Linked DNA regions of Homo sapiens. The protein of the gene in region 1 purifies or fractionates together with the protein of each later gene. This does not show direct contact. Each region holds a gene or a part of one and is shown in the gene's direction. Other genes may lie near its edges. The genes, in order: CCR1, PLCXD1, MAB21L4, GSTM1, EHD1, CLPTM1 and CBR3.

Region 1 (4,036 bases):
GTTCTCTTTGGAAACTGATCCACCAGCAAAGTACTGCAAATAGCCAGGCACATGCAGACCCCCATTTATTTCTTTGGGGTGAAGCTGAGTGATGATCAGATGTCAAGCTTAGGCCATCTTGTCTGAATTCTTCATTTTACAGATAAGAAAACTGAACCATGAAGAGACAAGTGATCTTTTCAAAGCACATTCACACTGATGATTTCTGAAACAGTGCTTTGTAGCAATGCCGTGAGGAAGGTTAGGGGTGTCCCCACTTTATAGAAGACACAAGGGCAGAGGCAGAGTAGGTGTTGGCAGTTGTGAGGAGAGTCACAGTACTCATCATTTGTCAGACATTTTTCACTGTGCCAGGCACTCTGACATTTTTCATGTACAAGTTGACTTCGTGCTTCTCCTCTGAGGTAAGCATTCAATACTCCCATTTAGCAGAGTAGGAACCAAGACTTAGAAAGGTGAGTGATCTGCCCATGTCACAGGTGGAGAGCTGGGATTTGAACTTGGCCCATGTTTGACCATCACGTAAAACAGGAATGGGGCATCAGAAAGGGAAGGTCAAAATGTAACCAACAGACCTATATTCCCTTCATGCTGGAGGTTCCTGGGGCAAAGCCACTCTCTGAGGTTTGGTGGGGAGGGACTTGGGGAGCAGAGAGCAGAGGGACAATGAGCTCCCAGAAGCCGAGGGGCATAGGGTGCCAAAGAGAAGCTGCTGCCTCTGTGAGCACCCATGTCAGTTAGTTTTGAGGAACAGGACTCAGGGTTCCAGTTTAAATCCTTCCATTCACAATCTTTAAGAAGAAGAAAAAAAAGAAGTCTGCCGCTGACCACAAGAGCTCTATGCCCTGCCCCCATCCCACATACACACATCCCACACTTCAATTGCTCCAAACATTCTGGGAACATCTCACTGCCACCCACCTCACCCAACTCAGCTTCACCTGCCCCCAATTCCCTTAAGGCTGAGCTCCCAGGGCCAAGACTCAAGAGGCTCAGAGTGAGCAGAGAAAATCCTCGCAGTTAACTTGGCTTCCAGGAAGTGGCCACTGGTGGGCGTTGTGGCCATTCATGAGCACCAAACCACACAAAAAGAAGAACTTTGTCCCTTTCTTGTCATTTTGAAAGACTGTGAAACTGGAGCCAATTCTCCATCATCACACAGGAAGCTGAGTACTTCCTACTTGGTCAGGATCTTGAAACTTGAATTCATAAAAACCCAGAAAGCCCCAGAAACAAAGACTTCACGGACAAAGTCCCTTGGAACCAGAGTAAGTGTCACTTGTCTTTTCTGTCTTATCTGTTACTGTGGAGGGCAGTGTTGTTCAAAGACATGCATGCAGCTAGGGGCTCCTCAAAGGTAGGGGGAATTCTTTGAGTAGGCTGGGCAAATGTCTAAGTAGCCCATGGATGCATCTCCAAGGCAATTAATACTGTAGCAATACTGAGAATGGTGGATTTATAAAGCTGGGTGCTCAGATGAAATATAGGCTTTTTTGCTAAAAAGGAAGCTTACTTGAAGGATTGGCTTTTGGTTACTGATTAAGAAAGTCAGTCAGTACTAAGGGACAAAAGGTGTTTTCTGTGGAAACCTATTCAATAAGAAATTACTTGGCGGGGCGCAGTGGCTCACGGCTGTAATCCCAGCACTTTGGGAGACCGAGGCAGGTGGATCATGAGGTCAAGAGATGGAGACAATCCTGGCCATATGGTGAAACCCTGTCTCTACTAAAAATAAAAATTAGCCGGGCATGGTGGCGCATGCCTGTAGTCCCAGCTACTCAAGAGGCTGAGGCAGGAGAATCACTCGAATCCGGGAGGTGGAGGTTGCAGTGAGCTGAGATTGCACCACTACACTCCAGCCTGGCGACAGAGCAAGAGTCTGTCTGAAAAAAAAAAAAAAATTGCTTGCCAAATTCCCCCATGTAAAGGAAAACCAAACATGGTGTATGAAGAAATTATAGCAAGAGGGAAATATTAGCTAGAAAAATCTTGGCAGATGCAAGGATGATTTGATACTGAACCTATCTCTTAAGAAGACTAGAACCAAGGATCCTCAAAATTGGCACTGCTATCTTTGGAAGAGGTAGGCTTTCACTCACCCAAAGGCAAGGAGCTGGCCAGGTGATCTTGGGGGGCATCTGTTCTGCTCTACTAACAAAGACACAGGTCAGGATTTTGTTCTGAAGATAGAGGGGCATGGTGGCTCCGTATAGGTATCTACTTCATAGGTGGTCTTGGTGGGTCCCAGATTTCAAAGAAGAGATGGAAACTCCCAAAAGTTTGCACAACCTGGCACCAGGCTATGTGCCACTCACTGATCCTTTAGTTCCCGCACCGAGCAGTGGGACAGTGCTGGACTGTTCAGAATGTGGGGCCTGGGCAGTGATGTGCTGGTAAATGTTCAACAACTGACTCTTCTGAAGAAAAGATCCCTGCTTTATAACATTTGTTGATTTTCATGGTATAAATGCCCCCACTGTGGTCAGTTTCAAGCTACCAACATGCTGAATGTGGAGTGGGGAAGAGATGCACGCAATTGGCATTTATAAACCAGTATAAGCCAGCCAGCGCACCATAGGCCTGGGTGTCTTTCACCATCACAGACTGCTCTATCTCTGCTCAGAGACTTCACCAACTCCCAGGCTGGAGGACACTAGCAGTGGAGGGTCCAGGATCCAGGGCTATAGCTGACCACTGTGCAGTGGCCTTGAGGCAGACTTCTGCAGTAGACTACAGCAGGGCTGGCAGATTAGATGACAACATGGTCCTTTGGTTTCTCTTCTCGGGCCCCACCCCAGATCACCTCCCTTTAGGAACAGCATGCCTTGGAGTGGTTGCCTGGGGCTTAACAAGTTGGGGAAATAACAAATGGGTTGGAGGTAGGGGGTGTATGGAGGTGACTCGGTTTAAAATGCCACCTGACAATGTTGACTCAACTTGCCTTTGCCTTTGCCAAACCTTCCCAGAAACTGGACTCATGGGATCAGGCTTGCACTAGCTGCTCTTTGTGCTTTCCAAGCTATTTGCATACTTCCACTGTTAACCTGCCAGCCCACCGAAAAGTGCTGACTATCAAACCGAACTGTCTGCCCTCATCAGCAATGGCTGTGGCTGCAGAAATTAGAAACTGCCAACACAGCTTTGTTAGTGACCGTTAGCCTGACTCTCTCCAGAAAGAGGGCTGATTGGATCTCTCTGGAGATGGAGGAGTGGGCCAGGGGATGGGTTTGATAAAAAATTAAAGCTCCTCACTTCTCACCCTAATAGAGTATCTCCCTTTCCAGCCAGGGTGCCCTATACCCTCCATGTGCCTTAATTTCCTTTACAATGGCTATTGAAAAAAATGTGAATTGTGTAAGCAGGAAACATTCCTTAAGGAGAGTAGAAGGAAGAACACCAGAGACCCAGGTTTAAGATAGAAATTATAAAGTAGGTGCCACCTACTTTACTGATTGGCATTTGGGTCAAATCAATTTAGATTGGCGGCAATAGATTGACAATTTCAAATGTCATTCACATGGAAGGGACCATCATTGTCCACCGTTATCAAGAAAAATCACTTTCTAGATTAACTACAAAGAAATTTGGCAGGGGGGTGGGAGACAGGGTATACCAGCCAGCCAGGGACATCCTGGACATTGGTGCCTGGGATGTGCTGGTGGTGTCAGGCCTCAGGGAAGGGCTCCTGCAGTGAAGGAGTTCTCTCAGGGAAGGTCCCCAAGAAAAGTGCCCTGGCCTGGCTCTTGCCAGGCCCTCAATAAGGGGCCTGGCTGTTGCCAGGTGGTGGTGGTGGGAGGGTGATGGTAGCACTTTTCTCATACATTACCTCACAGTAGCCTTGCAAGATAAGAGTTGCTTTCCCACATTACAGATGAGGAATGAAGCTCAGAGAGGTAAAATAATTTATCCAAAGTCACAAAGCTCGTAGGTTACACCAAAGCCAATGCTCCATTTGGGGAGGCATCTTTAATAAGCAACTGGAAAGGATTCAAGTGCCAAAAAAGCAGGGACTGGGAGAAGTCCTACAAAGGCAACC
Region 2 (3,715 bases), on another chromosome or scaffold:
AGGCTGAGGCAGGGGAATCACTTGAACCAGGAAGGCGGAGGTTGCAGTGGGCCGAGATCGAGCCAGTGTACTCCAGCCTGGGCAACAGAGCGAGACTCTGTCTCAAAACAAAACAAGACAAAATCAAACTTCTGGGGTCAAGCGATCTGCTTGAACCACCATTCCCAGCCGAGTTGTGCAATTTAAAATCGTGAATTTCGGTGCAGTGGCTCACGCCTGTAATCCCACCACTTTGGGAGGCCGAGGCAGGTGGATTAATTGAGATCAGGAGTTTGCGACCAGTCTGGTGAAACCCCATCTCTAGTAAAAATACAAAAAGATTTAGCTGGGCGTGGTTGTGTGCACCTGTAATCCCAGCTCCTCGGGAGGCTGAGGCAGGAGAATTGCTTGAACCCGGGGGCGGAGGCTGCCGTGAGCCGAAATCGCGCCACAGCACTCCAGCCTGGGCAACAGAGCGAGACTCCATCTTGGGAAAAAAAAAAAAAGGTAACTTTTTTGTACGTGAATTTCACCACAATTTTTGTAAAAAAGCCACCGACGGGGTGTGAGGTGCAGACAGCGTCGGCAGCCACGGCCCCGTGTCCTCCGGAGGCAGGAGCCTGAGGGAGGGAGGGAGGAAGGTCCTCCCCGCGGGGACGGTGGCAGGTGGGGCCGTCTCGGTCCTGCAGCCTGCGGCTGGGTTCTCTCAAGGTGATCTTCACGGCCGCGAGGGCTGCTTCCCACAGGGGCAGCATGAAACCCAGTCACGGGCCGGGCAAAGGAGCAGGTTTTTTCAACTTGGTCTCTTGCCCTCACACAGGAACGAGGTTTAGAGACTTCAGAAATGTCTTTTTTTTTTTTTTGAGGTGGAGTCTCACTCTTGTTGCCCCGGTCGGAGTGCAGTGGCGCGATCTCGGCTCACTGCAACCTCCGTCTCCCGGGTTCAAGCCATTCTCCTGCCTCAGCCTCCTGAGTAGCTGGGACTACAGGCGCCCGCCACCACACCCGGCTAATTTTTTTTTGTATTTTTAGTAGAGACAGGGTTTCACCATGTTGGTCGGGCTGGTCTCGAACTCCTGACCTCATGATCTGCCCGTCTCAGTCTCCCAAAGTGCTGGGATGACAGGCGTGAGCCACGGTGCCAGGCGGAAAATTTTTTTGTTTGTGTGTTTGTTTTTTGAGACAGAGTTTTGCTCTTGTTGCCCAGGCTAGAGTGCAATGGCGCAATCTTGGCTCACTGCAGCCTTCGCCTCCTGGGTTCGAGCAATTCTCCCGCCTCAGCCTCCCACCACGCCCGGCTAATTTTTATTTTTAGTAGAGATGGGGTTTCTCCATGTTGATCAGGCTGGTCTCGAACTCCCGACCTCAGGTGATCTGCCCGCCTTGGCCTCCCAAAGTGGTGGGATTACAGGCTTGAGCCACTGTGCCCGGCCTTTTTTTGTTTGTTTTGTTTTGTTTTTGAGACAGAGTCTTGCTCTGTCACCCAGGCTGGAGTGCAATGGCGTGATCTCGGCTCACTGCAACCTCCACCTCCTGGATTCAAGTGATTCTCCTGCCTCAGCCTCCCGAGTAGCTGGGATTACGGGCACGTACCACCATGCTGAGCTAATTTTTGGATGTGTTTTTACTAGAGAAAGGGTTTCAGCGTGTTGGTCAGGCTGGTCTTGAACTCCTGACCTCATGATCCACCGGCCTCAACCTCTCAACGTGCTGGGATGACAGGCATGAGCCACCGTGCCCAGCCTAGAAATACGTGTTAAAAACCACTGAGAGAACTTGGCCATAAACGTCTGTTGCCTTTGCCGTCTCTGGCTGTGGAATCAGTCCAGCTGGTCAACACAGGGGCACTGGAACCTACCTCTGGGGGAGCTTCTTCAAATATGGCTTGCAGGAGATTCCGGCTCAGCAGATGTAGGTGGAGCCCCCAAATTTGCATTTCTAACTATTGCAGGGACCCCACTTTGAGAATCACTGGTCAACGTCAACCCTCTCTATAAGCCTCATAAGAGATGGCACAGACTTAGTGCCCAAGACAACAGCATTCTTCCTGTCTATCACATGGGGGATAAGAATGTGGACAAGTTTGGGGCCATATTATTCTGTCTCCCACATGGGATTAGGACGTGGACATCTTTGGGGCCATTATCCTGTCTACCTCATGGGGATTAGGACGTGGACATCTTTGGGGACATTATTCTGTCTCCCACATGGGGATTAGGACGTGGACATCTTTGGGGCCATTATTCTGTCTATCACATGGGGATTAGGACGTGGACATCTTTGGGGACATTATTCTGTCTATCACATGGGGATTAGGACGTGGACATCTTTGGGGACATTATCCTGTCTATCACATGGGGATTAGGACGTGGACATCTTTGGGGACATTATTCTGTCTCCCACATGGGGATCAGGACGTGGACATCTTTGGGGACATTATTCTGTCTATCACATGGGGATTAGGACGTGGACATCTTTGGGGCCATTATTCTGTCTATCACATGGGGATTAGGACGTGGACATCTTTGGGGACATTATTCTGTCTATCACATGGGGATTAGGACGTGGACATCTTTGGGGACATTATTCTGTCTATCACATGGGGATCAGGACGTGGACATCTTTGGGGACATTATCCTGTCTATCACATGGGGATTAGGACGTGGACATCTTTGGGGCCATTATTCTGTCTCCCACATGGGGATTAGGACGTGGACATCTTTGGGGCCATTATTCTGTCTCCCACATGGGGATTAGGACGTGGACATCTTTGGGGACATTATTCTGTCTCCCACATGGGGATTAGGACGTGGACATCTTTGGGGCTGTTATTCTGTCTCCCACATGGGGATTAGGACGTGGACATCTTTGGGGACATTATTCTGTCTATCACATGGGGATTAGGACGTGGACATCTTTGGGGCTGTTATTCTGTCTCCCACATGGGGATTAGGACGTGGACATCTTTGGGGACATTATTCTGTCTATCACATGGGGATTAGGACGTGGACATCTTTGGGGACATTATTCTGTCTCCCACATGGGGATTAGGACGTGGACATCTTTGGGGCTGTTATTCTGTCTATCACATGGGGATTAGGACGTGGACATCTTTGGGGCCATTATTCTGTCTATCACATGGGGATTAGGACGTGGACATCTTTGGGGACATTATTCTGTCTATCACATGGGGATTAGGACGTGGACATCTTTGGGGACATTATTCTGTCTATCACATGGGGATTAGGACGTGGACATCTTTGGGGACATTATTCTGTCTATCACATGGGGATTAGGACGTGGACATCTTTGGGGACATTATTCTGTCTCCCACATGGGGATTAGGACGTGGACATCTTTGGGGACATTATTCTGTCTATCACATGGGGATTAGGACGTGGACATCTTTGGGGACATTATTCTGTCTATCACATGGGGATTAGGACGTGGACATCTTTGGGGACATTATTCTGTCTATCACATGGGGATTAGGACGTGGACATCTTTGGGGACATTATTCTGTCTCCCACATGGGGATTAGGACGTGGACATCTTTGGGGACATTATTCTGTCTATCACATGGGGATTAGGACGTGGACATCTTTGGGGACATTATTCTGTCTCCCACATGGGGATTAGGACGTGGACATCTTTGGGGCCATTATTCTGTCTATCACATGGGGATTAGGACGTGGACATCTTTGGGGACATTATTCTGTCTATCACATGGGGATTA
Region 3 (4,368 bases), on another chromosome or scaffold:
CATCAAATCACAGATGTTGAAGCCAAGGCCCAGAACAGGCAGATGAGCTCCCTGGGCCACTGCGGCCGAGGGTGAGGGGTAGGACCCCAGCTGCCCTGCAGCAGCGTCCACCTCCCCCAGGCCAGAGTCCTGTGGAGATGGAGGAGTGTGGCACACGGCTGTGTGTGGGGACCTAGGCAGGCCGTGGGTGAGGGCCCAGGACAAATGGGGCCTTGAACCTGAATGGCTGCCCTCGGGGAGGGGGACACGTGCTCTAAGCAACTCCAGGGAACAGGAGTGGGCCAGCTTGGAGGAGGGATATCTGTCTCTCGCTTGACCGTGGGCTACCCTGTGAGGTGGTGAGCTCCCTGTCCTGGGAGGCATGGAAGCAGAGACCCGCTCACTGGGCTGCAGCCCCTCATAGGGGCTTCCAAGCACCAGGAAGTGAGTGGCTGTTGCCCCCTGCCCCACCCCTCCTGGGATCCTGGTTCTGCCCACAGCTCTGACTCAGATGCAGCTCCCCGGGGGGTGAGAGGCCCACGTGCGGTGGCTACAGGGGCAGCATCTCCACGACGCCCCTGTGGGGCCATCTCCATGTTCACTGTTTGCAGACACCCCTGTGGCTGAGCACCCGATGCACTCGGCCAGCTGGCAGGGCCAAGGGTCGATGGGGCGGCTCCCTGCTGGTTGGGACTTGCACGGCCCTGAGCAGGGGAGGGGGGCGGGGCTGGCAGGGTACCTGGTGCAGGTGCTGGAGGGGGATGGTGGGGCGAGTTTCTCCACCTGGGTGAGGTGGAGCCACGGAGACTGCTTTTCTCCAGAACCAGACGAGCTCCAGCTCCCAGGCTAGGTGGGTGCCAGCTCCTCTCAGGTTGGAGGCTGGGCAGGGTGGGGTGGGGTGGGGTGGGGACTGGTAGCCCAGGGGTCCAGGGCCCAGATGGCTGGATGCACAGCTGGGGCAGAGGCAGGAGCCATGCCAGGACTGCAGCCTGTAAGCCGGGCACAGGTGTCTGAGGGGAACATTGCAGAGACGCAGCCTCCAGGTTCCCAGCCTTCCAGGCAGCCTTAGAGAGTCGGGGGCTCCCCCACAGCGGGGTCTGGGCAGCCACCGCCCTGCCTCCCCTTCCTCACTGAGCCACGGGGTGCCTTGTGTTCCCTCCAACCTGGCAGGGAGGCTGGGGCAGGGGGGCCTGATCCAGATACCCGGCCCCTGGGCTGTGGGGAGGAGGGTGGAAGGAGGCCCATCAGCAACACACAGAGGCTCCCATCCCAGGGACGGCACAGTCCAGCGGCAATATTTCTCCAGGGACCCCAAGCCTGGCTGGGACAGGGGCCGTGCCTTGGGCCTAAGATGAGAGAGCTCTTCTGAAGGGAGGGAGGAGGGTGGTAACCAAACCCAGCCCCCGCCTGCCCTGCATGGCCCCTGTGACATTCCCAATTGCTGGGGACTGACTCACCCCCACTTCAAAGGCCTTAAATAGTTCAGCTATTTCACCTGCCACACTGTGCTGTCACTCTGGAATTCTGCTGTGTGGGAGCTGAGGCCCCACCTGCAGACCTGCTGCTCACCTGGGCAGGTGCCTCCTCACAGCCCATCTGCACAGCTGGCCTGCGGAGTCCTCCTCAGGGGCCACTGGCCCTCACCTGCCACTGTTGAAGGGATGCCTGCCCCTGCTCTCCCCACCTCAGCCATGGCCGTGCAGGTGCCCCTGTGGCACCACTACCTGCAGGCCATCCGGTCCCGGGAGGCGCCGCGTGCCCAGGACTTCCAGCGCGCAGAGAACGTGCTGCTCACGGTGCTGGAGCGCGTGCATGCCCTGGACCCCCGCTTCATCGTGGACTACTCCCGTGGCCTGGAGGCCTTCCAGTTCGCCCTGCGCTCCTCTGAGGACCCAATGGACATGGAGGTGCCCCTGTGGGTGGATGCCGAGGCTCTACTGATTGAGGAACCAGAGGCCACCCAGCCGGAGGATGGCCTTGAATTATGCCACCTGGGTGTGCCCAGGGAAGGGGCTGGCCTGGAGCGGTGGACCACCGAGGATACCTTCACTGCCTCCTCGGAGGGTGACGCCAAGTGCCGTGGACACATTGTGCCCAGCAAGGTCCTGTGTGTCCTCAAGGACCTGCTGGTAGCAGCCATCGTACACTGCAAGCACCACAGTCTCATCGCACCAGGTACAGGCACAGCCCACTCTGCACGCGTATCTGCGTGTACCGAGGGGCTGCTGTGTGGGTGTCTGTGTGCAAGTGTGTGAGTGCACATGTGTGTGATTGCCATGTACGTGCACACAGGGTGGCGACTGTCTTCTGTGTGTGACTGCACGCACAGGCATGTGTGCACGTGTGTGACACTGTGCAAGTGTGAACAGTGTGTTGGGGCACAGAAGTCGGGAGACCTCACTTAGGTCTTCCAGCTCCAAATGCCTGTAACAAGACAGATGACGTGTTCCGTGTCGTGTGTGTTTGCACGGGGGTTCCACGGCTGCCAGTCGTCCAGTGGCTGGAGTCTGGGGCAGCTGCTTCACTGGTGGCCTTGCAGGAGGGTCCCTCACACGGCTCTGGGCAGGCGGCTCTCTTGCCAGTCACAGCCTGTGACCTCGAGGCTCCCCGAGGCCATCCCGTGCCCACTTCCAGTGTCTGATGATGTTGCACCAGGTGGGAGGGGTGTGTGTGTGCCTGCCTGCGTGCGCGTGAGTGCAGGGGTGTGAATGCGTGTGCAGGTGTGTGCCCGTGTCTTATCAGCTTATGGCTGAGTTGTCTATTGGTGTCTTGAGCCCCAAGTGGGCTCTGAGGCTGGGCTTCTGCGTGGACCAGGGGCTGGCCTCAGTCTCTCCTCTGGGGCCTTTTGTTTGTTTGTTTGTGAGACTGAGTCTCACTCTGTCACCCAGGCTGGAGTGCAATGGCACGATCTTGGCTCACTCCGCCTCCTGGGTTCAAGCGATTCTCCTGCCTCAGAATCCTGAGTAGCTGGGATTACAGGCATGGGCTACCACGCCTAGCTAATTTTTGTATTTTTAGTAGAGACAGGGTTTCACCATGTTGGCCAGGCTGGTCTCGAACTTCTGACTTCAGATGATCCGCCCACCTGGGCCTCTCAAAGTGCTGGGATTACAGGTGTGAGCCACAGCACCAGGCCCACCTTTGGGGCCTTGTTGATATGGTCCAGGGTGAGTCTGAGCCCAGGGCTCCTTCAGCAGGGGCTGCCTGGACGGCGACGGTCGCTGGGAGGACAGGGCTCAGCCTGTGCAGGGGCCAGGATGATGGGGACCCTGAGTGGTACAGCCATCCTCCAGGGGGTCAGGTTGTCCTGGAAGGGAACTGGGGACTGGAACAGAATTTGTCACATGTGAGTCACCACAGTCCTCACAGGGCTTTGTTGCCTCGAGTCACCTCCCTAGTATTCATCTGACCCTCATGTCCTCCGTGAGGTCAGCGGGTGGGGTCAGCTCACCTTCGCGAGAGGCCATGATCTGCTTGGGGATGCCCGGCGCTGGGGCCTGCCTGGAGGCAGGGGCACCTCCTGTGGGTTCTGGGGAAGGGTGTGCTGCCACCGCCGCACATAGCCAGGCCTCCAGTCTGCATGCTGGGAGGCCAGGAGGGTGGATTCTAACAGAAGCCCTCCCCAGACCTGTCTAGTGCCCTGGGGTAAGTGACTGACCTGACCTCTGGGGTGTCAGCTTCTGGTGCTCCCAGCCAGCCCTCACCCTGCCCCCAGCCCCTCGGGCTTCCTGCTCCAGCATCTTCTGAACCTCTAATCATGCAGGCCATGGGGTGGGTATTTCTATCTTCTTCCCGACCTCACTTGGCCCTGTCCCCACCTGTGAGACAGGCCCACCCATTGGGGTGAGCAGGAGGCCGTGCCAGGCCCTGAGTCATTCGGATTTGCTCTAAGCCGCCAGGCTCCTCACGCCCCCAGAGTGCCTCCTGAGAAAGCAGACTCGATACTGCAGGCCGCGCCCACAGCCCCTGAAGCTGCGCTGGGCTGGGCATGCAGGGAGATTCCAGGCATCGTTTCCTGACACTCACCTTAAAGGGGAAGTGGCAGCCTAGGTGACAGGGGTCAGGCTGCCCCCACCCTGGGAACCGGTGAGACCAGCCCGGGGCTGTGGCCTGTGGCCGGGCTGGTGCAGTTGCAGCTGCCTTCCAAGCTGCCAGGTCACGGGCAGTGAGCGTGCGTGGCCCACGGCAGATGAGGTGTGTGGCCACTAGAGGCGGCTCTGAATGGCAGGCACCTCAAGTGCTGCATGGGGGGGCCCTCCTTCTCTTTCATTGATGGGAACTGAGGCCCCTGTGGGATGGGCCGCCCAGGCAGCAGGGCCAGGGTTGCCCTGAGGTGGGCCCCAGAGGCGTCCCCAGAACTGCCCCACGGGAGATTGTGGGGGCTGAGGG
Region 4 (4,368 bases), on another chromosome or scaffold:
CTGAGGGACAGGTTCTGTGGCAGGCCAGGCGTCACTAACACAGGCCTCCATAACAACTGTTTCAGTACTGACTGAGTGGTGAAGTTAAATATTAAAAGCTGAAAAAAGCCAGTACCTTTATACAGAGGCTGGATGTAACAAAAGCCCACCAAGAGTTTTGCTTAGGCCTTTCCTGGGCCTTAAAGCATGACAAAACAATGAAGGAATTCTTAACAGGACCTATTTAGAATTAAACAAGTTTTATTGTGAGTCTGAAGAAACTCCCCAGGCCTCCACAAACAAGTTTATTGGGCGTCTGAAGGAACTCCCCAAACCTCCGTGATTTAGCAGGAGACAAGATAAGGGTAATCATCCCCCGCACCTGGACCCATTTAGATTAAATAAATAGACTGAGGCTCCAGAATAAGGTCCTCAGGACCCAGACCTCAGTTACAGATTAAAGAAGTTAATCACTTATGTCTTTAGATGAATGCACACTTACTTGTAGACATATACCTTAGAAGGTATATATGCTCTGGAAAACTTTGTAATATTGAGTTGGTCTGGTGGTAATTTCTAGGCCTTCTCCCTGTTACCGGTTGCAGAAATAAAACCTCTCTTCCTCCCCATTTGATCTGCATCTCGTTATTGGGCCTAGAGAAATAGCAGCCGGACCCTCAGTTTGGTCCGGGAAGTTCTTCCATCCTCCCTCGCCTGCTCTCTGTGGCCACTGCACTCACTGTTGCTGTTGCTGTTCCGGTCTCTGTGAGGTTCACCTAGTGGACTGGCTGGACATTTCTAGGGGGCACCTCAGATACCTCACCAACTTGCTGGATCTGATCCTTGGATTTCGATTCATAAATTGTGCCAAAATACGAAGTGGCTAATTTACACAGTACTTAGCCAGATGACCGAAGGACTCAGTACCCGAGGGCCCCTAACAGAAAACACAGACCACATTTCCTTTACTCTGGCCCTTTTCCTGGGGGTCCTTCCTATACCACTGACACTGTTCCTGTGTAGGCGGGGCTAGAGGGGAGACTAAGCCCTGGGAGTAGCTTTCGGATCAGAGGAAGTCCTGCTCTTACAGTGACAGGGGCTGAATTAAATTCCCAGGTTGGGGCCACCACTTTTTAGTCTGACCCCTGCAGCCGGAGTCTCCCAGAGCCCTTGGGAACTCGGCAGCGGAGAGAAGGCTGAGGGACACCGCGGGCAGGGAGGAGAAGGGAGAAGAGCTTTGCTCCGTTAGGATCTGGCTGGTGTCTCAAGCGCACAGCCAAGTCGCTGTGGACCTAGCAAGGGCTGGATGGACTCGTGGAGCCTCAGGGCTGGGTAGGGAAGCTGGCGAGGCCGAGCCCCGCCTTGGGCTTCTGGGCGCCCTGACTTCGCTCCCGGAACCCTCGGGCCTGGGAGGCGGGAGGAAGTCTTACTGAGTGCAGCCCCAGGCGCCCTCTCCCGGGCCTCCAGAATGGCGCCTTTCGGGTTGTGGCGGGCCGAGGGGCGGGGTCGCAGCAAGGCCCCGCCTGTCCCCTCTCCGGAGCTCTTATACTCTGAGCCCTGCTCGGTTTAGGCCTGTCTGCGGAATCCGCACCAACCAGCACCATGCCCATGATACTGGGGTACTGGGACATCCGCGGGGTGAGCGAGGGTCCGCTGGACGGTGGGACGAGGGCGCAGGGGAGGGAAGTGCGAAGCAGCTGCGGGACGGACTCTAGGGACCGTTCCTCTTCAGGGCTGCCCGCCTCAGAAGGGCCTGTGCATGCCGCTGTGTGTGTGTTGGGGGTGTGGGCGGGTAGAGGAGGCAACGGGTACGTGCAGTGTAAACTGGGGGCTTCCCTGGTGCAGACAAAGTCAGGGACCCTCCATCTCTGACGCGACCTGCGGGCCATCTCTCCCAGCTGGCCCACGCCATCCGCCTGCTCCTGGAATACACAGACTCAAGCTATGAGGAAAAGAAGTACACGATGGGGGACGGTAATGGCACCCTCGTGTTCGGGCTCTGCCCACTCACGCTAAGTTGGCACCAAGCAACCCATGGTGGCCACCTGTGGCTGCCTCTGCAGGCCTCCCCTGCTGGAGCTGCAGGCTGTCTCTTCCCTGAGCCCCGGTGAGGGAGCCCTCTGGCCTTGCAAGGCAGAATGCTGGGGTGGGATGCTGGGCCCCCTGTCTAATTGGGACGGGTGTCCCTCAGGGCTTGCCTAAACCCTGGAAGCCTTAGCTGTGTGGGGTCCAGAGCCCTCAGCGGGATTCTTTGTCCCTGAACCCTGGGATGTGGGACTGAGTGGTCAGATTCTAGATCCACCTGTCTCAGGGATCTTGCCACTGGCTCCGTGGGAGGGTCCCCGGGAAGGAGGGCTGGGCTCTGGGGAGGTTTGTTTTCACTTCTTCTTCCCCACCACAGCTCCTGATTATGACAGAAGCCAGTGGCTGAATGAAAAATTCAAGCTGGGCCTGGACTTTCCCAATGTAGGTGCAGGGGAAGGGGCGGTTTTGGGGGAAAGTGCAACGTGTCTCTGACTGCATCTCCTCTCCCCAGCTTAGAGGTGTTAAGATCAGGAGTCTTCTGCCCAATTCCTCTCACTCCTGGCTGTCTAAACAGTCCTTCCATGATGTTCTGTGTCCACCTGCATTCGTTCATGTGACAGTATTCTTATTTCAGTCCTGCCATGAGCAGGCACAGTGAGTGCCCGGTCTCCTCTCTGCTCTTGCTTATGGGAAGGGGATGCTGGGGAGCCTGGTGGCCCAACTGAGCTTCGCCGGTTTCCCATCCATCCAGCTGCCCTACTTGATTGATGGGGCTCACAAGATCACCCAGAGCAACGCCATCTTGTGCTACATTGCCCGCAAGCACAACCTGTGTGAGTGTGGGTGGCTGCAATGTGTGGGGGGAAGGTGGCCTCCTCCTTGGCTGGGCTGTGATGCTGAGATTGAGTCTGTGTTTTGTGGGTGGCAGGTGGGGAGACAGAAGAGGAGAAGATTCGTGTGGACATTTTGGAGAACCAGACCATGGACAACCATATGCAGCTGGGCATGATCTGCTACAATCCAGAATTTGTGAGTGTCCCCAGTGAGCTGCATCTGACAGAGTTTGGATTTGGGGCCAGGACTCTTGCATTCCTGCACACACTGGTCTTAAGTCCCTGGTACCATTCATCCTCCAAGTGCTTTCCCATACTATCAGCAGTTATTCTCACGACTCCAATGTCATGTCAACAAAAGCAGAGGCAATTCCCACCAACCTTAGGACACGATCCAGGCATCCCAGGGTAGAAATTCAGTTCCTGTATGGTAAAGTTTGTGTTCAGAATCTCCTTCATCAGCTCTGGCCTCTGACTTCTGTCCTGGGTCATTTCTGTCAGCCAGTTCACATCACCTGCCTGCTCCTAGAATATGCAGACTCAAGTAGAAGACTCAGGAATGTAATGGCACCCTCGAATTGCATCTTCTCCTCAACAGTTTTCTGAGTGCTGTCATTGACATGCACAGGGATCTGCGCATTTTCATAACAGACAGCTCAGAGGCAGTCAGAGGGCCTTTATTCCTCTCCCTCCTTCCTTTCAACTTGAACTTCTCATCTCCCTGGAAACTAGTCAATGTTCATTGTTTTCTTCTGCCACCCCATTAGAAGGAACTTTCTACTTTCCCTGAGCTCCCTTAGTTCTTTGCATCCTTGATTCTGCTGGTCTGGATCCAGAGGCTGCCAGGTGCTTGGGCGCTCCTGGGGCTGACCCAGAGGCTATTGGGAGGTCAGTGAGGACAGATTCAGGGACAGCATCTCATTCCTCTCTGCCTTCTGATCAGTTTAGATAGGGTCTGGCACTCAGTCAGAGTCTAATAAATGCTGATGTATCCAATTGAAGCCTGGGCACTGCCCCAGTTCCAGCTTGGGGAAGATGGCTGCTTGCCCATGGCCAGCCTGGGCCGTCCACAGCCCCGGGGAGGCCACGTCTGTGCAGGGAGCTTTTGTCCGAGGGTGGTGACAGCTGTTTTCTGCCTCAGGAGAAACTGAAGCCAAAGTACTTGGAGGAACTCCCTGAAAAGCTAAAGCTCTACTCAGAGTTTCTGGGGAAGCGGCCATGGTTTGCAGGAAACAAGGTAAAGGAGGAGTGATATGGGGAATGAGATCTGTTTTGCTTCACGTGTTATGGAGGTTCCAGCCCACATATTCTTGGCCTTCTGCAGATCACTTTTGTAGATTTTCTCGTCTATGATGTCCTTGACCTCCACCGTATATTTGAGCCCAAGTGCTTGGACGCCTTCCCAAATCTGAAGGACTTCATCTCCCGCTTTGAGGTGATGCCCCCATCCTCCTTTCTCTTTGATGCCCCTTGTTCCGTTACCTCCTTTCAGATGTTTTCCCAGTCCTGGAGCTACACACAGAATAACTCG
Region 5 (3,695 bases), on another chromosome or scaffold:
GGTGGTGGGCAAGGACAAGCCCACCTACGACGAGATCTTCTACACGCTGTCCCCTGTCAACGGCAAGATCACGGGCGCCAACGCCAAGAAGGAGATGGTGAAGTCCAAGCTCCCCAACACCGTGCTAGGGAAGATCTGGAAGCTGGCCGACGTGGACAAGGACGGGCTGCTGGACGACGAGGAGTTCGCGCTGGCCAACCACCTCATCAAGGTCAAGCTGGAGGGCCACGAGCTGCCCGCCGACCTGCCCCCGCACCTGGTGCCGCCCTCCAAGCGCAGACATGAGTGATGGCGCCCGGCCCCGCACCTGCCATTTGCACGCCCGGCCGGGAGGCAGAGACGGGGGGAGGGGAAGCCTCACCATTTCTCAAGGTCCATAAAGACTGAGCGGATGTTTCCTCGCCTCTCGAAAAGGAAAACCACCATCTTTCTTTTAAGGCTGTTCCTGGGCCTGGCGGGGGAGGCAGGGGTGAGAGGATGGAATTGTGTGCACAAGAACTGTGGCTATTTTAATATATAACGTTAGAGGCTGCGTTCTTTGTCGCCGCCTCCCCTGTGTGCCAGCCCTGTGTGCACGGCCTCTGCCCCCCGGCCTTTGCTGTGGCTGGAGCTGGACAGTGCAGCGACTGCGACCGTGGGGGAGCCAGGTCGCCCTTTTGGCAGCTGCTAGGCTGAGGCTGCATGGACAGGAACACCAGGCACCCTCCGTGTGCTTCTGAGCTGAGGTTGCTTCACGGGACCGTGGCTTCCTTCCTCACCTGGCTCTGCCTCCCCCGTGCTCTCGGGCGAAGTGGGTTCTTGTGCCTTCCCCTCCCGGGCCCAGGCTCCCCGTGCGCGGGCCCTGCCCTTTCCTCCCGCGCCCCACCGGCTCCGACGCGCAACCCCGCTCAGCAGTCACAGAAGCAGGGCCCAGCCACCTTGGTCTTTTTTTGGGAGTTCAGGGGAGTAGGAGAATGTCTTCCAGAAAAATACATAAGCTAGTTTCTGTTCTGTAAAGTGATATCTTTCATACTTGACCAAAGTTCCCAATAACTTCCCAACCACTGTTCAAAAGCTGTGATTTTTGTCTCCCCTTCCCACCCTCCAGCCAAGGAGCAGCCCTGCCCAGGGGGCATTAGGTGTGGGTACCCGGGGAGCACCCCGTTCCTGGACCCCAGTGTTGCATTTCCTGGCTGAGGAAGGGTGGTCATCCCAGCTCCTGCCCTACCCTCTCACTTAACTGGAGCTTTGGGACGCACCCTCCACAGTGGGAGGTGGTGGTGGGTGGCGGTGGCGGGGCCTCACGACAGCTTGGTGCTGGTAAGAGGAAGCCCGTGGTTCTGGCTAGGCTCTCATGTCCAGACAGCGGGGACCAGGGGAAAACCCAGCCCCTTCTGTAATCCCCCTTCATTTCCTACCTTCCTTCCTCCTCTGTTTAGCAAAGGAGGGCAGCTCACTTGGATGTCCTTACAACGCCCCTGGCCCCCAGGTTGAGCAATAAGAAACCAGAACCTTGCGGCCCAGTGGCCCGGGCCAGTTCAGGCCGCCTCCCCCTCCTCTGCCTGGGGCCATTGAGCCCAGCCTCCAGGGCCCGGGCGCGTTTGCAGGCCAGTGGCCACTGTCCGGGCTGTGATGGCACCAAGGCAGGTGGAGCACCAGGTACCACACAGCTGGGCTTCCCACCAGGCTTTCCCGCGGGGGTCTCAGGGAGCTTCTCCCCAGCGCTGCTCGGAGTCTGCAGGAACTGGCCTTGTTCTCCTTAGCCCGTCACTCCATACAGTATTAGGTGAGGATGGATGCGGGCGCTGTCCTTGCCGGGAAGTCACTGTTGAAGTTGCAGTGGCTTGTTCACACCTGTGGGAAGAGAAGTGAAGACTTTCTCCTTGCATTAAAAAGTCTGAACTGTGCGAAAGCTTCGGGTGCTTCCTTGTCTTTTCCAGGGGCAGCAGTCCTGGGCCATCCTCCCCTGGTGTCTGAGGGGGTGATGCCAGCAGGGACAGAGTGGCAAGGCAGCCGGGGCAAGGTGACCAACCCTGCCCAGTCCTGCTCTGCTGGGCAGTAGCTGCCCCCTCCTACTAAGAGGGCCAGGCCTGTAGGGAAAAGGGTTTCTGGGGTGATGCCCCCTTCCCTGAGCAAGGTGGGAGCTGAGCAGTTCACTTGGGGTGGGGAGGGGGGAAACAGTTGGGAGGATGTTGATAGCTGAGGCCTAGGCTGGCACCCCTCAGCCACAGACGGATGAGTGGGCACCTGCAGGCCCTCGGCACTGGGTGGCATCAAGTAAACAAGGGTTTCTGGGCTTTGGAGCCAGACTGGCTCCTTGCTAGCCCCAAGGACGGTTTAAGTACAGGGAAGCCGGGCCTCTGAAGACAAAGCAGATAGCCTGTGACAAACATGCAACTAAGGGTGGGGCCAGTCAGGCCCAGGTGATGTCACAGATGGGGGACTGTTTATACCAGCAGAGGGAAGGGTGACTGATTAGTGACCCTTCATAAAAGGGTGCAGACTTGAGGTGCCATGGGTAGAGGCTGCTCCAGCCCCTCTGGCAGAAGGCAGGACAGAAACAAGTTCCTGAGGGTTTCAGGGACCCAGTTGTGTGCTCCGAGCCTAGCTGGTGTGGTGGTGTCTGGTCCTATGACCAGCACTTGAGGTGCCAGTGGATGCTTCAGTTGCTGCAGGGCTGGCCGGCCCTCCCTGCGTCACTCAGCTGCCACCTGTGGGCATTCACCCTGTGCCAGGTGGAGCTGCGCTGTCACGATCTGAGGAAGTTCATGTTCCCCCATTTCACAGAGGGAGAGTCCGAGACTGAGGACTGCCGAAATAACAAAGGTGGTAGAAGCAGATGCAAACCAGGCCGTCCAACTCCAGCGTGCTTTCCATCAGGTTACTAATCCAAAGCACACACTAAGAGGAAAAAACGGTAGATCCCCCCAACCCCACCCTTAGACTGCAGCTGTACTCAGGGCTGAGAGACCCACATTAAAGGTTAAATGCTGTCACTCCAGCCTGGGGTCCTGAAAGCTTGGGGCAGGGGTCACCCAAGGGAGGTGGAGCATTTTTGTTCAAGCTGTGAGCACATTAGAGAAGGCACAGAACTTAGCAGTGCCCCTGAACTAGGAGGAAGGGAAGTGCTGCCTGGCCGCCCGCTCTCCTTCCCGGAGCACTCCACCTGCAGGGCTCTGTGTGGCCACAGAGGGGCTGTGAACCCCCTGGGGCTGCCCCAGGAAGCGCCTGCTGATCTGAGGCTTGAAAGGGGCTGAGGGCAGGTGTCTGCCCCAGAGTTCATAGCCCTGGTTTCGGTTCTACAGGTTGGGGATCATCTTTGGGCTCCGACCGGGGTTCAGGGAGGACCAGAGGATGTGGTCAGAGATGTGGCCGCCCACCTAGAGGGCTAGTCCCAGCCCTCGCCTCCTCCCTAGATCCATAGCTGGCCATGACCCTGGGGAAGAAGCCTCCTCTTCAGAGGCTGGCCTGGGGCAAAGGAGGGGCATTGCCACCCAGCTACCAGAGCCCGTGGACTGAGGCCTTCAGGGCAATCTGTCGCCCACGCAGCACCTCACAGCCCAGGACCCAAGAGGCAAAGGGCCCGCCCACTGCCTCTGGCCATGCACAGCTGTTTTCTATGTTGCAGTTCCTTGTAAGATCTCATTCAGAATAAACATTTCTGGCTGGGTTTGGTTCACACCTATAATCCCAGCACTTTGGGAGACCAAGGTTGG
Region 6 (3,715 bases), on another chromosome or scaffold:
GGAGCTGGAGAATGGCTTCCTCAGAAAGCCCCCCATTCTTCTAACGGGAGTTCTGTGTACTCCACCTAGCTTTCACTTTATTGAGGACTATTCCAGACATTCCCTGTGGATTTGGTTAAGATCCATCTGGCTGGTTTTGGGTGGCGCAGCAACAGACAGAATTCTATTTGTATGAGTTAGGTCTTACCTACTTCTTTTAGTACAAAAATATCCTAAAGGATGGTAATTTTTTTTTATCACCTATACTGGATGAAATGAAAAGTTGACTCTATGTGGGTCCCTAGAAATGACTTGGAAAGGTCTTCTGGAGTTACTTGAGCCCCTTTCTGAGTGAGTGTGTCTGAAGAATGTGCTGCGTTGGTATGTCCCACCCGGCTGACGTCCATGTGGTGAGATCTTTGGAGAACCAGGCAGAAGTGGCTTGAGGGGGTGTGACCTACAGGGTTGGTCTCACAGATGTTTCCCTGCAGGGGGATACGTCAGGGGTCTGGGCTAAAATGCCCGATGTTTCAGAGGTCGCTCTGAAGGTGACCCAGGTGGGTGGCTCTTCACCCTATTCTTGTACCCCGTTTGACGATCACCTAATCATCCCGTTGACCCAAATCGATGCCAGTATTTTCTGCAGTTTTGTCTTTGGTGAGTGTGATCCATGTCACTGTGTGGTGAGGTTTATTCACAGTCAGTCTGGTCTGTAAAATAGAACCTGCAGACAGTGAACCTGAAAAGCATACTAGGATCATCCAGGCCTCCCTCCCCAGCCTTGGAGCTGGGACCCTCAAAGCAGGGACATAGAAGGACTTGGAGTGAGCCACCCACAAACTCCAGGGTGAAGGAGAGTGTGAGTTCAGAAAAGCCCCCTTTTGGCTGGTTGTGGTGGCTCATGCCTGGAAACCCAGCACTTTGGGAAGCCAAGGCAAGCAGATCACTTGAGGTCAGGACTTCGAGACCAGCCTGGCCAACATGGTGAAACCCTGTCTCTACTAAAAATACAAAACTTAGCTGGGCATGGTGGCACATGCCTGTAATCCCAGTTACTCGGGAAGCTGAGGTGGGAGAATCTTTTGGACCCCGGAGGCGGAGATTGCAGTGAGCCGAGATCGTGCCACTGTACTCTAGCCTGGGCGACAGAGCAAGACTCCATCTCAAAAAAAAAAAAAAAAAAAGAAAAGAAAAGCCCCTTTTATCCCCAAGAGGCCAATAATCAGTATTCTAGAGCAGCTCCGTCCCATGGAGATAGGATGTGAGCCAGAGAAGGCATTAAAATTTTTCCAATAGAAAAATACTAAAGAGTAAAAAGGTAAAGAGAGGCCAGGCACGGTGGCTCATGCCTGTAGTCCCAGCACTTTGGGAGGCCAAAGTCAGAGGATCGCTTGAGCCCAGGAGTTTGAGGCCAGCCCTGGCAACATAGGGAGACCTCATCTCTACAAAAAAAAATTTTATTTTATTTTATTTATTTTATTTCATTTTATTTATTTATTATTATTTTTTTTTGAGATGAAGTCTTGCTCTGTTGCCCAGGCTGGAGTGCAGTGGTGCAGTCTCGGCTCACTGCAAGCTCTGCCTCCCGGGTTCACGCCATTCTCCTGCCTCAGCCTCCTGAGTAGCTGGGACTACAGGCGCCCGCCACCACGCCCGGCTAATGGTTTTTTTGTATTTTTAGTAGAGACCAGGTTTCACCGTGTTAGCCAGGATGGTCTTGATCTCCTGACCTCGTGATCCACCCGCCTTGGCCTCCCAAAGCACTGGGATTACAGGCATGAGCCAGCGCGCCTGGCCTATTTTATTTTATTTTTTTTTGAGACAGAGTTTCACTCTTGTTGCCCAGGCTGGAGTACAGTGGCATGATCTTGGCTCGCCACAGCCTCCACCTCCCAGGTTCAAGCAATTCTGCCTCAGCCTCCCAAGTAGCTGGGATTACAGTCATGTGTCACCACGCCCAGCTAATTTTGTATTTATAGTAGAGATAGGGTTTCTCCATGTTGGTCAGGCTGGTCTCGAACTCCCGACCTCAGGGGACCCACCTGCCTTGGCCTCCCAAAGTGTTGGGATTACAGGCGTGAGCCAAAAAATTTTTTTAAATTAGCCAGATATGGTGGTGCGCAACCTGTAGTGTCCTCCGACTCAGGAGGCTCAGGTAGAAGGATCATTTGAGTCCAGGAGGTCAAGGCTGCAGTGAACTGTGATCAGGCCACTGCACTTCAGCCTGAGCAACAAAGCGAGACCCTGTCTCAAAAAGAAATATAAATAAAATAATAAAAAGGTAAGGCCAGGGCCGTGATGGCTCACACCTGTAATCCCAGCACTTTGGGAGGCCAAGGCTAGAGGATTGCTTGAGCCTAGGAGTTCGAGACCAGCCTGGGCAACATGGCAAAACCCCCCCTAATAAAAATACAAAAATTAGCCAGGCATGGTGGCACATGCCTGTAATCCCAGCTACTCGGGAGCCTGAGGTAGGAGGATCACCCAAGCCCAGGAGGTTGAGGCTGCAGTGATCACACCACTGCACTCTAGCCTGGATAACAAAAGGAGACCCTGTCTCACAAATAAATAAATAAAAAGGTAAAGAAAAACCATGAGATTAATATCAATAATAGTTTAATTGAGCTCAACATATTCTCGTTTCAACATATGATCAGTATAAAAAGTGAGATATTTTACATTTTTGTTTCCCCTTGTGTCAGTTTTCAGAATCTAGTGTGTGTGACTGGGCACGGTGGCTCACATCTGTAATCCCAGCACTTTGGGAGGTTGAGGCAGGTGGATCACTTGAGGCCAGGAGTTTGAGACCAGCCTGGCCAACATAATGAAACCCCAGCTATACTAAAAATACAAAAATTAGGCGGGCATGGTGGCTAACGCTTGTAATTCCGTCTACTCGGGAGGCTGAGGCAGGAGAATCACTTGAACCCAGAAGGCAGAGGTTGCAGTGAGCTGAAATCGTGCCACTGCACTCTAGTCTGGGCGACAGAGCGAGACTATGTCAAAAAAAAAAAAAAGGGTCTAGCGTGTGTTTTATATCATAGCACTTCTTGGTTTGGACCAGCCATATTTGCAGTGCCCAGTAGCTGCATGTGGCCAGCAACCCTGATACTGGATGGTGCAGCTCTAGAAGATTTTCCTCCAAGAAAGGGGGGCTTTTTCCTCCCCACAGGAGCCAGGTCCATCTGGTCTGGATGCCTCCAAGCTGCAGAATGTGTTCTTTGCCTGAGCCAAAGCCTCTCTCCCCTGTGCCTCCCCCTCCACCAGCCAGCGCTGCCCTCTGGGGCTCTCCCTTCCCTGGACAGTCTCTGTCAGGTGTGGACACGATTGGGGCATGTCCCCCTGGAATTTTCTCCAAGTCAACCCTTGAGTGTTGGTTTCTCCCCCTGGACACAGGAGGAAGATCCCCAATGATTTAATAATCATAGAAATGATGAGGATTGGCCAGGTGGCTCAAGCCTGTAGTCCCAGCAATTTGAGAGGCCGAGGCAGGTGGATCACTTGAGGTTAGAATTTGAGACCAGCCTGGCCAACATGGTTAAACTCCGTCTCTACTAAAAATACAAAAATTGCTGGTCATGGTGGTGGATGCCTGTAATCCCGGCTACTCGGGAGGCTGAGGCAGGAGAATTGCTTGAACCTAGGAGGCAGAGGTTACAGTGAGCTGAAGTCATGCCACTGCTCTCTAGCCTGGGCAACAGAGTGAGACTCCATCTCAAAAAAAAAAAAAAAATGA
Region 7 (4,159 bases), on another chromosome or scaffold:
TTTTTTGAAAAGTCTCACTCTGTTGCACAGGTTGGAGTGCAGTGGTGCAATCTCGGTTTACTGCAACCTCCGCCTCCCGGGTTCAAGCAGTTCTCCTGCCTCAGCCTCCTAAGTAGCTGGGATTACAGGCACGTGCCACCACACCCAGGTAATTTTTGTATTTTTAGTAGAGATGGGGGTTTCACCATGTTGGTCAGGCTGGTCTTGAACTCCTGACCGCGTAATCCACCCGCCTCAGCCTCCCAAAGTGCTGGGATTACAGGTGTGAGCCACCGCGCCCGGACCAAATGATCTTTAGGAGAAAAAAGAAGGAAATACTGGGGGAGGCACAGTAGGAGATCACAGCAGGGGCCCACCTCCGGAACCTCAAGTAAGGACTTGAGAGAGAAGGTAGAGTCAGAGTAACAGAGACACAGGCGGGTTAGCCAGCTCTGCATGGAAAAGGCTGAGTCGTGATGATGTCATGGTTCTCCCCAAATCTCAAAGTCACTGATCAAACAACTCAGTTTACACTGAAGACGATGGATGAGACTCTAATTTTGTGCCCACAGCTTGACACACCTTTGGGAATTTGGTTTAACTTTCTTTGCCGGTACACAGATCTGTGAGAACATATGATCAATCCAGATCTTTATAGATCTATATCCTCCCTGGACAAACCTAAATGCAGACACTTTTAGCACCCGTAGGAGTTAGGTAGGATTAAATAAAAACATTCCCTCCCACTTGGGGGCACATTCACTGGGAATCCCAGAGCGATGTCGCCTGCCCACACCTGCTAAGTGCGCTCACAGGGCATCTAGTTCCCTCTCTTGAGTTCCTTTTAAGCAAGCAAGGCAACCTATGTCCAGAGAAGCAGTTACTGTGTCTAAGTAAGTCACTGCATCTTAGGAAAAAGCAAACATTCGCATTTTGCAGTGCATGATGGGCGCACACCCAAGAAAATTACTCAGCACTTGTTTTTCTCACTTTGGGGTTTTCCCAAAATAATTTCTTCAGTCCAGTTGCCAAGAATCTGGAGCCCCCGACTGACCCATCAAGGTCCGATTTGGCTTCGGACACCTCGCAGATCACCCCGCGGCTCAGAGCCCGGATCCTGAAGGGCGCAGCGTGGGCAGGGGGCGGGCCCGGGAGTTGGAACAGAGGGCACAGACGGCCCCTCCTCGGAGGGGAGGGACCGGAGCCGGGGCCTTTTTCTTTAAGACTCGCAGCACTGGATCCCAGAACTTAGTCTGCGCGGCGGCATTGACACTAGCTGGGCTCCTCGGGGCGCGCCCCAGGTGGTCCGAAGCCCGGTCCGCCCTCCACGCAGGTGCCCCGCGCTCCCCGCTCAGCCATGTCGTCCTGCAGCCGCGTGGCGCTGGTGACCGGGGCCAACAGGGGCATCGGCTTGGCCATCGCGCGCGAACTGTGCCGACAGTTCTCTGGGGATGTGGTGCTCACCGCGCGGGACGTGGCGCGGGGCCAGGCGGCCGTGCAGCAGCTGCAGGCGGAGGGCCTGAGCCCGCGCTTCCACCAACTGGACATCGACGACTTGCAGAGCATCCGCGCCCTGCGCGACTTCCTGCGCAAGGAGTACGGGGGGCTCAACGTACTGGTCAACAACGCGGCCGTCGCCTTCAAGAGTAGGTGCAGGGCTTGGGTTGGGGCCCCCTGGAGCGCTCCGAGGGTGCGGAGGTGGCCAGCCGCAGGCTCCCCACCCGTCCACTTGAGTGACCGAGGAGGGTGGCGCCGACCCCTAGGGATGCGCTCAGCCCACGCCTCCCGCGAGGCGGTTTTCGCTTTCCGTGATTCGCTGAGCCCCAGGCGGGCCCGGGCGACAAACAGCGCGCCCCGCCCGCCGGCCTGTGAGGGCCTGTGCGCGGCCCGGGGCCCTCCCCGAACTGTCAGCCGCTGTTGTGTGCAGGAAAACTGGCCTCCTGGGAGGGGGCAACGCCCTGCTAGAGTTCATCAGCTTTCCTTCCAACGCGAGAAACATTTTCTCTGCAAAGAAACGGTCTCCGCTCGCTTTGGGCTTTCGCTTTCCTTGAAAGGGCGCATTCATAGATGCCCGGAGGCATTTGCTCGGGAAAGGAAATGAATCGCTAAAACAGGATTAGCGCGCGCTTGCCCTTGGTGGACTTGACAATTTGTGTAATGCAGAGCTTTGATAGGCTCTGGCAAAAAGGAAGCGAGCCTTCTCGTTCCCCCACCCCCGCCCGGGGAGCTTATGTTTGTTATAAAATACGTGCGTGTGGTCTTAAAAGCATCTTCCTTAAGGAGAGGGGCGGGGATCAAGAGATTGCTTATTCTAACTACTACTGAAGAAAATTACAGGAGGGCGCAGTGGCTCACGCCTGTAATGCCAGCACTTTGGGAGGCCGAGGCAGGAGAAACGCTTGAACCTGGGAGGCAGTGAGCCGAGATCGCGCCACTGCACTCCAGACTGGGAGACAGAGCGAGACTCCGTATGAAAAAAAAAAAAAAGTTACTACGGAGAAATAAACAGGCCGGCTTCACCTCCAACCTAGTGGGGAAAAAAAGCCTAAGAGGGAGTGAAATGAAGGATGGGGGAGCAGAAGTCTCCACCCCTCCCTTTGGCCCTAGGCACTCCGCATTGTTGTGCATGGGGACCTGAGACTTTCTTTGACCCGCACGGGCAACTCAGCCTGCCGGCTTTCTGAGAGCTGGGGTGCAGGAGTGGGGATTAACACCCCCTAATGCAGCCCTCAGCCATGGGCTGAGAGATTGGTGGATAAATACCCGGCTTCCTGGACGACAGGCGGAGGGACTTCCCCTTGCCTTTCAAGGTATGGGGAATGGACCACCAGCAGCTGCAAACCTGGGCGCTCATGGCAAGGCAGAATCTCCCGCCTTGCCCCACACCTGCTGAATCAAAATCTGCGTTTCCGCTGGGCGCGGTGGCTCATGCCTGTAATCCCAGCACTTTGGGAGGCTGAGGCAGGCAGATAACCTGAGGTCAGGAGTTCAAGACCAGCCCGGGAAACATGGTGAAACACCAACTCTACTAAAAATACAAAAATTAGCTGGGCATGGTGGCTCACTCCTGTAATCCCAGCTACTCGGGAGGCTCAGGCACAAGAACCGCTTGAACCCAGGAGGCAGAGGTTGCAGGAAGAGGAGATTGCACCCCTGCACTGCAGCCTGGGCGACAGAGCGAGACTCTGCCTCAAAAAAAAAAAAAAAAAAAAAAAAAAATCTGCATTTCAACAGAATCCCCAGCTCCCTCCTACGCACCTTTAAGTTTAAGAAGTGGTAGTCAAAGCCAAGTGTTCTCAAGGTGTGGCTGGAGACCAGTAGCTGTCACATCATCTGGGAACCTAGAAATGCAAACTCAGGCCAGGTGCGATGGCTCACGCCTGTAATCCCAGCACTTTGGGAAGCCGAGGCGGGTGGATCACATGAGGTCAGGAGTTGGGGACCAGCCTGGCCAACATGGCGAAACCCTGTCTCTGCAAAAAGTAAAAAAATTAGCTGGGTGTGGTGGCATGTGCCTGTAATCCCAGCTACTCCAGAGGCTGAGGCAGGAGAATCACTTGAACCCAGGAGGTGGAGGTTGCAGTGAGCCGAGATCGCGCCACTGCACTCCAGCCTGGGTGACAGAGGAAGAAAAGAAAGAGAAAGAAAGAAAGAAAAGAAAAGAAAGAAAGGAAGGAAGGAAGGAAGGAAGGAAGGAAGGAAGGAAGGAAGGAAGGAAGGAAGGAAAGAAAATGCAAATTCTGGAGCCCTTACTCCAGCCCTTTGCAATCAGAAACTCCAATGGTGAGGCCCAGGAAGCTGTGTTTTAACAGGCTCTACAAGTGATTCGGATGCAGACTAAAGTTTGAGAATCACCGACCTCGTTCTTAAAAATTGTTTTAAAATTAACTTGTTTTTCCTTTAGTTGTTAGGAGTTAGGATCCACTTTGTCATGTGAGTTTCAGGGGGAAAAATATGACTTTCTTTTTGTTTCTTTCTCTTTTTGAAAGGTGATGATCCAATGCCCTTTGACATTAAAGCTGAGATGACACTGAAGACAAATTTTTTTGCCACTAGAAACATGTGCAACGAGTTACTGCCGATAATGAAACCTCATGGTAAGCCCAACGTGTGGACAGTCGGGTTGCATCCCTCAGTAAGAAGTGGGCTACAGGCTTCCCGGAGCAGGGCTACCCTGCAG

Evidence for each region.
Region 2: the proteins of CCR1 (region 1) and PLCXD1 purify together in Homo sapiens (affinity purification with mass spectrometry; one large-scale study listed by BioGRID and IntAct). This does not show direct contact.
Region 3: the proteins of CCR1 (region 1) and MAB21L4 purify together in Homo sapiens (affinity purification with mass spectrometry; one large-scale study listed by BioGRID and IntAct). This does not show direct contact.
Region 4: the proteins of CCR1 (region 1) and GSTM1 purify together in Homo sapiens (affinity purification with mass spectrometry; one large-scale study listed by BioGRID and IntAct). This does not show direct contact.
Region 5: the proteins of CCR1 (region 1) and EHD1 purify together in Homo sapiens (affinity purification with mass spectrometry; one large-scale study listed by BioGRID and IntAct). This does not show direct contact.
Region 6: the proteins of CCR1 (region 1) and CLPTM1 purify together in Homo sapiens (affinity purification with mass spectrometry; one large-scale study listed by BioGRID and IntAct). This does not show direct contact.
Region 7: the proteins of CCR1 (region 1) and CBR3 purify together in Homo sapiens (affinity purification with mass spectrometry; one large-scale study listed by BioGRID and IntAct). This does not show direct contact.

The regions. Positions count from the first base shown.
Region 1 is NC_000003.12:46,205,514-46,209,549, reverse strand, and holds the start of CCR1 (C-C chemokine receptor type 1), read left to right. Parts: upstream 1-1,236; 5' UTR 1,237-1,268; intron 1,269-4,036. UniProt on the Homo sapiens protein: Chemokine receptor that plays a crucial role in regulating immune cell migration, inflammation, and immune responses.
Region 2 is NC_000023.11:294,700-298,414, forward strand, and holds part of PLCXD1 (PI-PLC X domain-containing protein 1), read left to right. Parts: intron 1-3,715.
Region 3 is NC_000002.12:240,893,270-240,897,637, reverse strand, and holds the start of MAB21L4 (protein mab-21-like 4), read left to right. Parts: upstream 1-1,481; 5' UTR 1,482-1,640; coding exon 1,641-2,154; intron 2,155-4,368.
Region 4 is NC_000001.11:109,686,293-109,690,660, forward strand, and holds the start of GSTM1 (glutathione S-transferase Mu 1), read left to right. Parts: upstream 1-1,524; 5' UTR 1,525-1,581; coding exon 1,582-1,617; intron 1,618-1,824; exon of another isoform or gene 1,825-1,877; coding exon 1,878-1,953; intron 1,954-2,380; coding exon 2,381-2,445; intron 2,446-2,755; coding exon 2,756-2,837; intron 2,838-2,932; coding exon 2,933-3,033; intron 3,034-3,978; coding exon 3,979-4,074; intron 4,075-4,161; coding exon 4,162-4,272; intron 4,273-4,368. UniProt on the Homo sapiens protein: Conjugation of reduced glutathione to a wide number of exogenous and endogenous hydrophobic electrophiles. Involved in the formation of glutathione conjugates of both prostaglandin A2 (PGA2) and prostaglandin J2 (PGJ2).
Region 5 is NC_000011.10:64,850,927-64,854,621, reverse strand, and holds the end of EHD1 (EH domain-containing protein 1), read left to right. Parts: coding exon 1-289; 3' UTR 290-2,980; downstream 2,981-3,695. UniProt on the Homo sapiens protein: ATP- and membrane-binding protein that controls membrane reorganization/tubulation upon ATP hydrolysis. In vitro causes vesiculation of endocytic membranes. Acts in early endocytic membrane fusion and membrane trafficking of recycling endosomes.
Region 6 is NC_000019.10:44,979,365-44,983,079, forward strand, and holds part of CLPTM1 (putative lipid scramblase CLPTM1), read left to right. Parts: intron 1-3,715. UniProt on the Homo sapiens protein: Involved in GABAergic but not glutamatergic transmission. Binds and traps GABAA receptors in the endoplasmic reticulum (ER).
Region 7 is NC_000021.9:36,133,857-36,138,015, forward strand, and holds the start of CBR3 (carbonyl reductase [NADPH] 3), read left to right. Parts: upstream 1-1,222; 5' UTR 1,223-1,336; coding exon 1,337-1,625; intron 1,626-3,968; coding exon 3,969-4,076; intron 4,077-4,159. UniProt on the Homo sapiens protein: Catalyzes the NADPH-dependent reduction of carbonyl compounds to their corresponding alcohols. Has low NADPH-dependent oxidoreductase activity.